Homo sapiens: one gene and its partner. The protein of the gene in region 2 interacts with the protein of the main gene of each other region in a pairwise test. Each region holds a gene or a part of one and is shown on either strand. Other genes may lie near its edges.

What was found.
Region 1: the proteins of DACT3 (region 2) and SESTD1 interact in a two-hybrid assay, tested with the Homo sapiens proteins (one large-scale study listed by BioGRID).

What each region holds. Positions count from the first base shown.
Region 1 is NC_000002.12:179,258,062-179,261,872, forward strand, and holds part of SESTD1 (SEC14 domain and spectrin repeat-containing protein 1), read right to left. Parts: intron 1-3,811. UniProt on the Homo sapiens protein: May act as the primary docking protein directing membrane turnover and assembly of the transient receptor potential channels TRPC4 and TRPC5.
Region 2 is NC_000019.10:46,658,234-46,662,475, forward strand, and holds the start of DACT3 (dapper homolog 3), read right to left. Parts: upstream 2,950-4,242; 5' UTR 2,832-2,949; coding exon 2,583-2,831; intron 2,176-2,582; exon of another isoform or gene 2,131-2,175; intron 1,448-2,130; exon of another isoform or gene 730-1,447; intron 718-729; exon of another isoform or gene 577-717; coding exon of another isoform or gene 532-576; intron 1-531. UniProt on the Homo sapiens protein: May be involved in regulation of intracellular signaling pathways during development. Specifically thought to play a role in canonical and/or non-canonical Wnt signaling pathways through interaction with DSH (Dishevelled) family proteins.

The DNA of each region.
Region 1 (3,811 bases), on a different chromosome or scaffold from region 2:
GTTTCTTCCTTCATTGCCTCCCTAATCAGATTATAAACTCCTTGAAAACAGAACCATGTTTTCTAATTCTTATATATAGCTCCAAAGTATTTTGTATTCTGCAGAAAAGATGCAACGTCAGTGAGAATTTACACAGTGCAATTCAAGACTTTTCTGATAAAAATTATCTAACCTAAACTCAGTAATTCCCACTTCTACTACAAAAACATGCTAACTGAAGCCCCAATAGATAGAATTCCTAAACTTTCTAAACTATTACTGAATCACAATTCATGACCTCTCAAAAGCATTTTGTTTCATACATCCCTAGCACAAAGCATGCAAGGATACCAAATCAATATCACTGAACCTGATCAAATAAAATGAAACTCATAAGCAAAAGCTCTGGCAATACCCACTAAAGGAAAGACAATATTACTATCTTTCAAGAATATAATCAATAGGTCTTTACAAACCAATTGACAAAGGCAGGTTCATTTTCTAAATGATTCTGCAAATCTACTAGAAGGCAATTAAATTATAACGCAGATTACTTCTTTCCAAGAATGTGCAGTTTCTGCATATGCCAAGCTGCTGAAGAACTGTACTTCTCAGCTCTCACACACACATGCACACGCACGTGCATGCATGCACACACACACACACCACTATCAAACCAGCTCTGACCACTAACTTACAATTTACTTCTGTGCTTTACCTGGTCAAACTGAAAATGAAATTAGGAGTAGGTAATAAATTATTTAGATAAGGTGATTATGGGAAAATGAAGTATCATCTTAAATTACTACTCTTAAGCACTGGCATTGGGACACATTAACAATCCTCTATTTGTATTTTATTAATGGAAGTCATTAATAAATAAGTAGTCTCATCCAACACTGGCTTAGTTCATTCATACACTTAGTATTTCAGTTTATAGTAGGTTCCCCCCTTGGTATTCCCTGTACATAGGGGCATGCCCTATCATCCCAGGAGTGAATACTTGTAATGAGCCAAAGAATATTCCCAGGACTGGGGGAGTCCACCAAGTAGACCTTGGAAAATCCAATTCCTGCACCTTTGTTTCTTTATCTATTAGAAAGGGAAATGGAAATCATCTCTATCTGATAGGATTATTGGAAAGATTAAATGAGATAAGGTTGTAAAGTGCCTAGTGTTAGTTCTCTAGCTTTTTGTTTGTTTGTTTTTGAGACAGAGTCTCACTCTGTCGCCCAGGCTGGAGTGCAGTGGCGCGATCTCGGCTCACTGCAACCTCCACCTCCCGGGTTCAAGCAATTCTCTGCCTCAGCCTCCTGAGTAGCTGGGATTACAGGTGCCCCCACGACACCCGACTAATTTTTGTATTTTTAGTAGAGACGGGGTTTCACCATCTTGGCCAGGCTGGTCTTGAACTCCTGACCTCGTGATCCACCTGCCTCAGCCTCTCAAAGTGCTGGGATTACAGGTGTGAGCCACCGCACCCAGCCTTAGTTCTCTAGCTTTTTTATAGGTAAGGAAAACAGAAGGATCTAAGCACTTAGGCGACTCATCCACAGCCAATGGCTAATAAACATAGGACAGAACAAAACTTCTGACTTAGGGCTTAATGTTCTTTCCACCTCACCAAGCAGCCTTAAATTAATAGAACTCAACATCTCAGGTTTGTCACTGTTGGGTATTCACTACATGCAAAGAAAAAAAAAATTGACTATTTTGAACATCTATTACATGCTAGAAACTAATGTCTTTCTTCATAACTGCCCTATAAGTGTTATCTCATGTTACTAAGAAATTAACTTGTCCACAGTCACAAGGCTAACAAGTGACAACACAAGATTCATCCAGATCTGTTTAGTCAATGATTTTACCTACCATCCTTCTTAAAGAGTGTATTTAGATACCATTGTCTACCAGAATCAAATCCCAAATGGCCTGTGAATTTTTATAGATACTTGTGATTTATTAGTGGAAACTGTCCCTAGCTCCACCATCCTATCTACTTAAAAATTTGTTCCTATTAGGTTAAAACATAATTATAATAACTGTAGTAACAAATTTACATTTGTATAGCATGTTACAGTTCATTACATTTTTTTCATTTTTGTTAGATGCAACTACTGAGCCTTTTCATATATTAGCTCACATATCATTTAATATTTCAAGACTCTTATGAGGTAGGAGTTATTGTCATTTGACAAATAAGAAAACGGGCCAGGTGCAATGGCTCATGTTAAGAAGGCCAACGTAGGCAGATTGCTTGAGCTCAGGAGTTTGAGACCAGCCTTGGCAACATTGAGAAACTTCATCTCTACAAAAAATGCAAAAATTAGCTGGGCATGGTGGCACATGCCTGTACTCTCAGCCACCTGGGAGGCTGAGGTGGGTGAATGACTTGAGCCCAGGCAGTTGAGGTTGCAGTGAGGTGTGATCACACCACTGCACTTCAGCCTGGGCCACAGAGTGAGACCCTGTCTCAAAAGAAAAAAAAAAATTAGAAAGGTCATCTCAGATCTCTCTCTGCCCCCACAGTTGTCAGATGATTTCTAGTAAACGTTTAAAGGGCAGATATTTTAAACTGTTCCAGAGCACAGAAAAAAGTGAAAAGTTTCCTAATCATTCTTAATCCTGACTTCATCTTGACACCGAAGCCAGGCATGGATAGCAAACTTAAATGAAAACATAATATTAGATTTATCCTTTGTAATTACAGATGGAAAAGTTTAACATATTTAAGTGAAAAACAAAGGAATATGTGTAGTATAATCCCATTTGTAAAAGAAAAAACATTATGAAAAGAAACATGTCTGTATGTATGGTAAAATATGGAAATGTGTATTTATAGATAAATACACACATAAATGCAAAGATACAGGTTTGGAAATATAAACCTCAAACTGTCAACAGCAGTTTCTCCAAGATGGAAGTGGTCTTAGGAGTGAAGAAGGGGAAAAAGACAAAAAGTGAAGGGAGATTTTCAGCTTTTACTCTCTCTATATATATACACATACATACTATTCAAATTCTGAAACAGTGGGTTCTAGGATCGGCTATGCTATTAAGAAGCTGTTACTAGGTTGAATCACTCTGACTCTGTTTCCCCATTGGAAATGTGGAAAGCAGACCTACCTTATTATGACAGAAGAAAAGGAATTTATTTGAAAATGCGTAATAAAATCTGATGAATATGTGGCAGTGTTGCCACAACACCTTATGGTTTGTTATTGTTTGGTTTGATTTTTTTTATTTTTCCCTCACTTTGTCACTAATCAACCAGACATTCACAAACACAATTTAATTTCTGTATGCCTCATTGAGTGCAGGAAGTAGAGTCAGAAGACCTGAGTTTACACTCAGACCTTGCCTCTTATTAACTGTAAGGTTAAAAAAACAAGCAAATGATTAAACAACTTTGCACTTTAGTTTCCTGGCAGTAAAATAGGAATAAACCTACCTTACAGCATCATTTAAAACATTAAATGAGAAAATTATATACAAATGGCCAATAAAAACATGATAAGATGAAATACAAATGAAAATCACAATGCGATATCACTTCACAGCCACTAGGATGGCTATCATCAAAAAGACAAACATTAACAAGTGTTGGCAAGGATGTGGAGAAAATGGAACCCTCATTGCTACATTGCTATAACCCTACATTGCTAGAAGGAATGTAACCCTTCTAGCAATGTAGAAGGGTTACCCTAGAAAATGGAACCCTACATTGCTAGAAGGAATGTAAAACAGTGCAGCAGCTATGGAAAACAGTCAAGCAGTTCCTCAGAAAGTAAACAGAATTACCATATAACCCAGCAATTACACATCTAGGTAT
Region 2 (4,242 bases):
AAAAAAAAAAAATTAGCCAAATGTGGCGGTGTGCACCTGTAGTCCTAGCTTCTTGGGAGGCTGAGGCAGGAGGATTGCTTGAGGCCAAGTTAGAGGCTGCAGTGAGCTATGATCGTGCCACTGCACTTCAGCCTGAGAGACTTTGTCTCCAAAAATAAATGAATAAATAAATATATCATTTAAAAATACATAAATAAACGTGAAAGGATAGACTTTTTGGTAAGTTCTGCCAAGTCTAATTCCGGTTCTTCCATTACAAGGAAGAGCAGAAATTAGGGAGACAGACAGGAGATGCCTCCTCCTCTCCAGCACCTAGACGCCCCCCAAAAATATTCCAAGTCTACACCCCTCTATTTGCAAGTCTGGCCTCATTCCTTCCAGTTGCAAAAGGATGAATCTTTAAAAGATTAGAAAGTCCTTGGCCTGAGTCTGGCTCTCTGCCTCCTCACGGTGCCCCTCATCCTTCCTCTGCAGGCTTAATAAGAGTGTGGTTAGGACCCCTGGAGACCCCTTTGCCCAAACTTCCCTTACCTTGTTTCTCCCCTCACGTGCCCCTCGTTGGTATCCAGTGCCCATTTATCTCTATTAGGAAGTCATTCTGCAAGTCTAACTTAAGTTATTCTTGATGAAAGGAACCTTTTTCCTTCTTGAGAGCAAGCAGGACCCAGGGAGCCCCTGCCCTCACCCAGGATTCCTGCCTCTCTTCTCTGCCACACCCCTGATCTTTACCTGGTATCCCCATCATTCCTATTAGAAAGTAATCAAGTCTGGCTTCAGTCTTTCTTGCCTTGAAGGAAGTGTATTCCTGGCAGGGGCTGGGGGTGGGGGGATAAGTCATAAGACAAGGGTTGGGGGATCAGAAGAAGCCCTAATCCACTCTTCAGAGGGACCCAGGAACCCCCAGCACTAGAGAAGTTTATATTTAGCGCTTCTCTGCTCCTCCTCCTCCCCCCGCCTGCCACCGCCTCCTCCCTGATGCTGGGACAAGCTTTGCCTAGAGACTGGGGGGTGGGGGGACAGGCCTCTCCACTATCAGCTCGTGCCGGGAGGACAGAGGGCTGAGGGGGAGGAGGGGACAGAGGGACCGAGGAGAGGGAGACTGAAGGGCAGAGATGGGGAAGGTGAAGGGTGAAAAGGGGAGAGACCGAGGGCAGAGGGGGAGAGGACACAGCTACCCACAGCTACCCCAACCTCATGCCTCGCATTCTCCTTGTCAGGATGGAAGGCGCCTTCCAAGCCGAGCCAGCTTGGGGTGGGGGGAGCTAGCGAAGGCCCCCACAATCCGTCTCTAACTTTGGGAGGGGGTGGGGCCTCCCACAGCTGTTTCTGTTTCCAGAAAAGAATGTGCAGGGGGGTCCCACTCCTGAGAGGGGGAGGGGCCGGGCGTGCAGCCCCGGGAGCCTGGCTTCAGTCTTCCTCCCCACTCCCCATCTGGGGAGGGGGCGGTCGAGGTCAGCGGCGGGGAGAGCCCCCTCCACTGCCACCTCGGCTCAGGTTTCCCGAAACGGGAAGCTCTGGCCACACACAGGCTTGGGGATGGGGATCTGCCGTGGAGCCAGGGTGTGCGGGCTGGGGGGAGGGGAAGACAGACTGAGCCTGGGACGTCGGGCAAGAAGAAGAGAGCGAGGTGCAGACAGGCAGGAAGGGAAGGCCAAGGAGACAGATGCAGAGGGACACAGAGATCACAGAGACAGAGAGACAGGATGAAGAAAGAGAAGCAGACACAGAAAGTCACAGGGATGTGGCAGGACGGAGAGAGTGACAGAACCCAGGACGAGATCGGGAGACTCAAGGAATGACATAGAAAGGGGAGAGGCATGGGGCGTCCTCAAGTCATTCCGGAGACCTCTGCCCATCTTCCACCATGAGAACACCCAGAGTCCAGAAGTCTCCCCCAGGCGCTGCCTCGACCTGCCTCCCCTTGGGTCAAGGAGAGCTGGGGCCAGGTAGGAAGCAGGGGAAGTGTCACCAAAGGGTCAAGATCCCAGTGGGGGGTCCTCAGGGACTGTGAGCTTCCTCTCAGCAGTGGTCCCTCCCTCTGGAGGCCCTGAGATTCCCCTCCTCCCACCCCGCCCCCTCCAGAGATCTCCAAGCACACCAGGACTTAGGGAAGATGGAGCCCTGGTGGCGGGGCCCAGAGAAGGGCATGTTTGGAGCCTGGCTGTGTCACCTTGGGTGAGTCGCTTGCTCTCTCTGAGCCTCAATTTGTTTCTCTGTTAAATGGGGACTATCACCCCGTTTCCCAAGCCGCAAGAAGACAACGCCTGCAAAGTACCCGGTCTCGGGTTTGACACATACTTGGCGCCCACAAGGATTTTCTTTGGGGAAGGGGTGTAAGAGACAGGGCCTGTGTTTCTCACGAGGCCCCAGTGGGGGCGATGCAGTTCCCCCTCCCCCGATTTGGGGGCGGGGAGGCCAGGTCCGGCCCGCCGCCGGAACTCCGGGGTCGCCAGCCCCACCCCCTGTCCTTTCTCACTCCCTGCCTACCCGGGTCCCCAACCCCCGCCCGGTGTCTGAGCATCCAACCGAGACAGACAGACACAGACGGGGGTGGAGGGACGGACGGACAGGCAGCCCCTTACCAGCTGCTCCTCCAGGGCCGCTGCGGCCCGGCGCGCCGCCGCCGCATCTTCATCCTCATCGGCGTCCTCCTCGTCCTCGGCCTCGGCGCCCCCCATTCCGGGCTGGGCCAGCCGCAGCGCCTGCTGCACGCGGTACTCCTGCCTCTCCCGGAGCCAATGTAACTCGCAGAGCCCGGCCAGGCTACCCTCCAGCCAGCCCCGCAGCCGGCCCCGCTCAGGGCTCACCGGGAACGAGAAGGCCCGGATCATGGCTGCGGCCCCCCGCCCCAGCCCGGCCGGGCCCCGCGGCCACCCCTCTCCCGGTCCCACCTCCCCGCCCCAGCAGCCTGCCCGCCCGCCCGCTGGCCGGGCTGTCACCGTCTCATCTGCATAGGCGCCCGCCCATTGGGCCGCCCACCCGCGCCTTATCTGCATGGCCACGCCCCCGGCGACCGAGCAACAGCCGCCTATTGGCGAATAAGCTTCCTGACGAAGACTCTCGGGCGTGCAACCGCACCGCCCAACACGACGCATGCTCGCAACTGCCTACTCACTCCGCTCGCCACGCCCCCTCCGTGCAACTGCCTCGGGGCCCTGGCCACGCCCCCCCACGCGTCACAATGAAACAAGCCCGCCCTTGCTTCAATGCCATTGGTCTGTGCCTGGCCGGTCCTGCAGCAGGTTCCACCCTCTTGCGGGCGAGCGCTGGCTACCATTGGACTGTCCGGCGCGAGGGGAAGGGTGATCTATAAATAGGGAATGGGTACACGTGACAGTTTGGCAGCTGCTCCTACCCCTCCACCCCGCCCAACCTTCAGCTTCTGAGGCTGCGCAGGGGGAGAAAAGGGTTAGGGGGTCGAGCCCTGACTTCGCCTCCTCTTCCAAGAAGCCTTCCCAGACACTCAGCTGTAAAACCAGACGGACGTCCTCCGATGAAATTGTTTCTACTTAGGGCCGGCTTCACCGGCTTGGAATCCACTTAGAAGGGTCTTCGCGCTTGGTTGAATGTTCTGCAATTTCTGTCTTGAAATTTTTAGTTTTTGAGCAAGGGGCCCCTTATTTTCACTTTGCACTAGGCCAAATATGTAGCCGGTCTTGCTGCTAAGAGTCTAAGATCGATTGCATTCCAAATTCTGGAATTATAAGACCCTGGGTGGAAGATTCTATGCTTTGACCAGAAGAGAGTCTAAGCAGCTTTTGTCTCCCAGGTGCTAGGAGGATGTGTGCTCATCATTCTTCCATTCCAGGGGCCTTTGTTCTACGTTCTAAGGGGCTTTGTTCTCAGCCTTCTATGATGCTCTATTCTCAACGTTCTCTGGTCCTAGGAGTCTGAGCCTGACATTCGTTTCCAAGGCTTCCTGCTGTCTCTCCAGGCTCCGCAAGCAGGGCTGGGGCACCCTCAGGCGGCCAATCTGTATCACTACGCCGAGCCTGCCTCTACCAACTTCCAAGACCTAGCTCTAATATTCATACTCATCTCTCAGACAGACCTTGGCTCCCTAAAAGCCAAGGCCCAGAAGATCATACAAGAAATTCCCTCTTTTATGATTCCCCGTGCACGAAGTGACCTTCTGGTGGTGAGATGGAGAGAAATTGATAGTGGCGATAGACAGCAAAGTCTCCAGGAGCCAGACTTCCTCGGGGTGAGTCACAGATCTGTCACTTTCCAGCTGTGTGACCT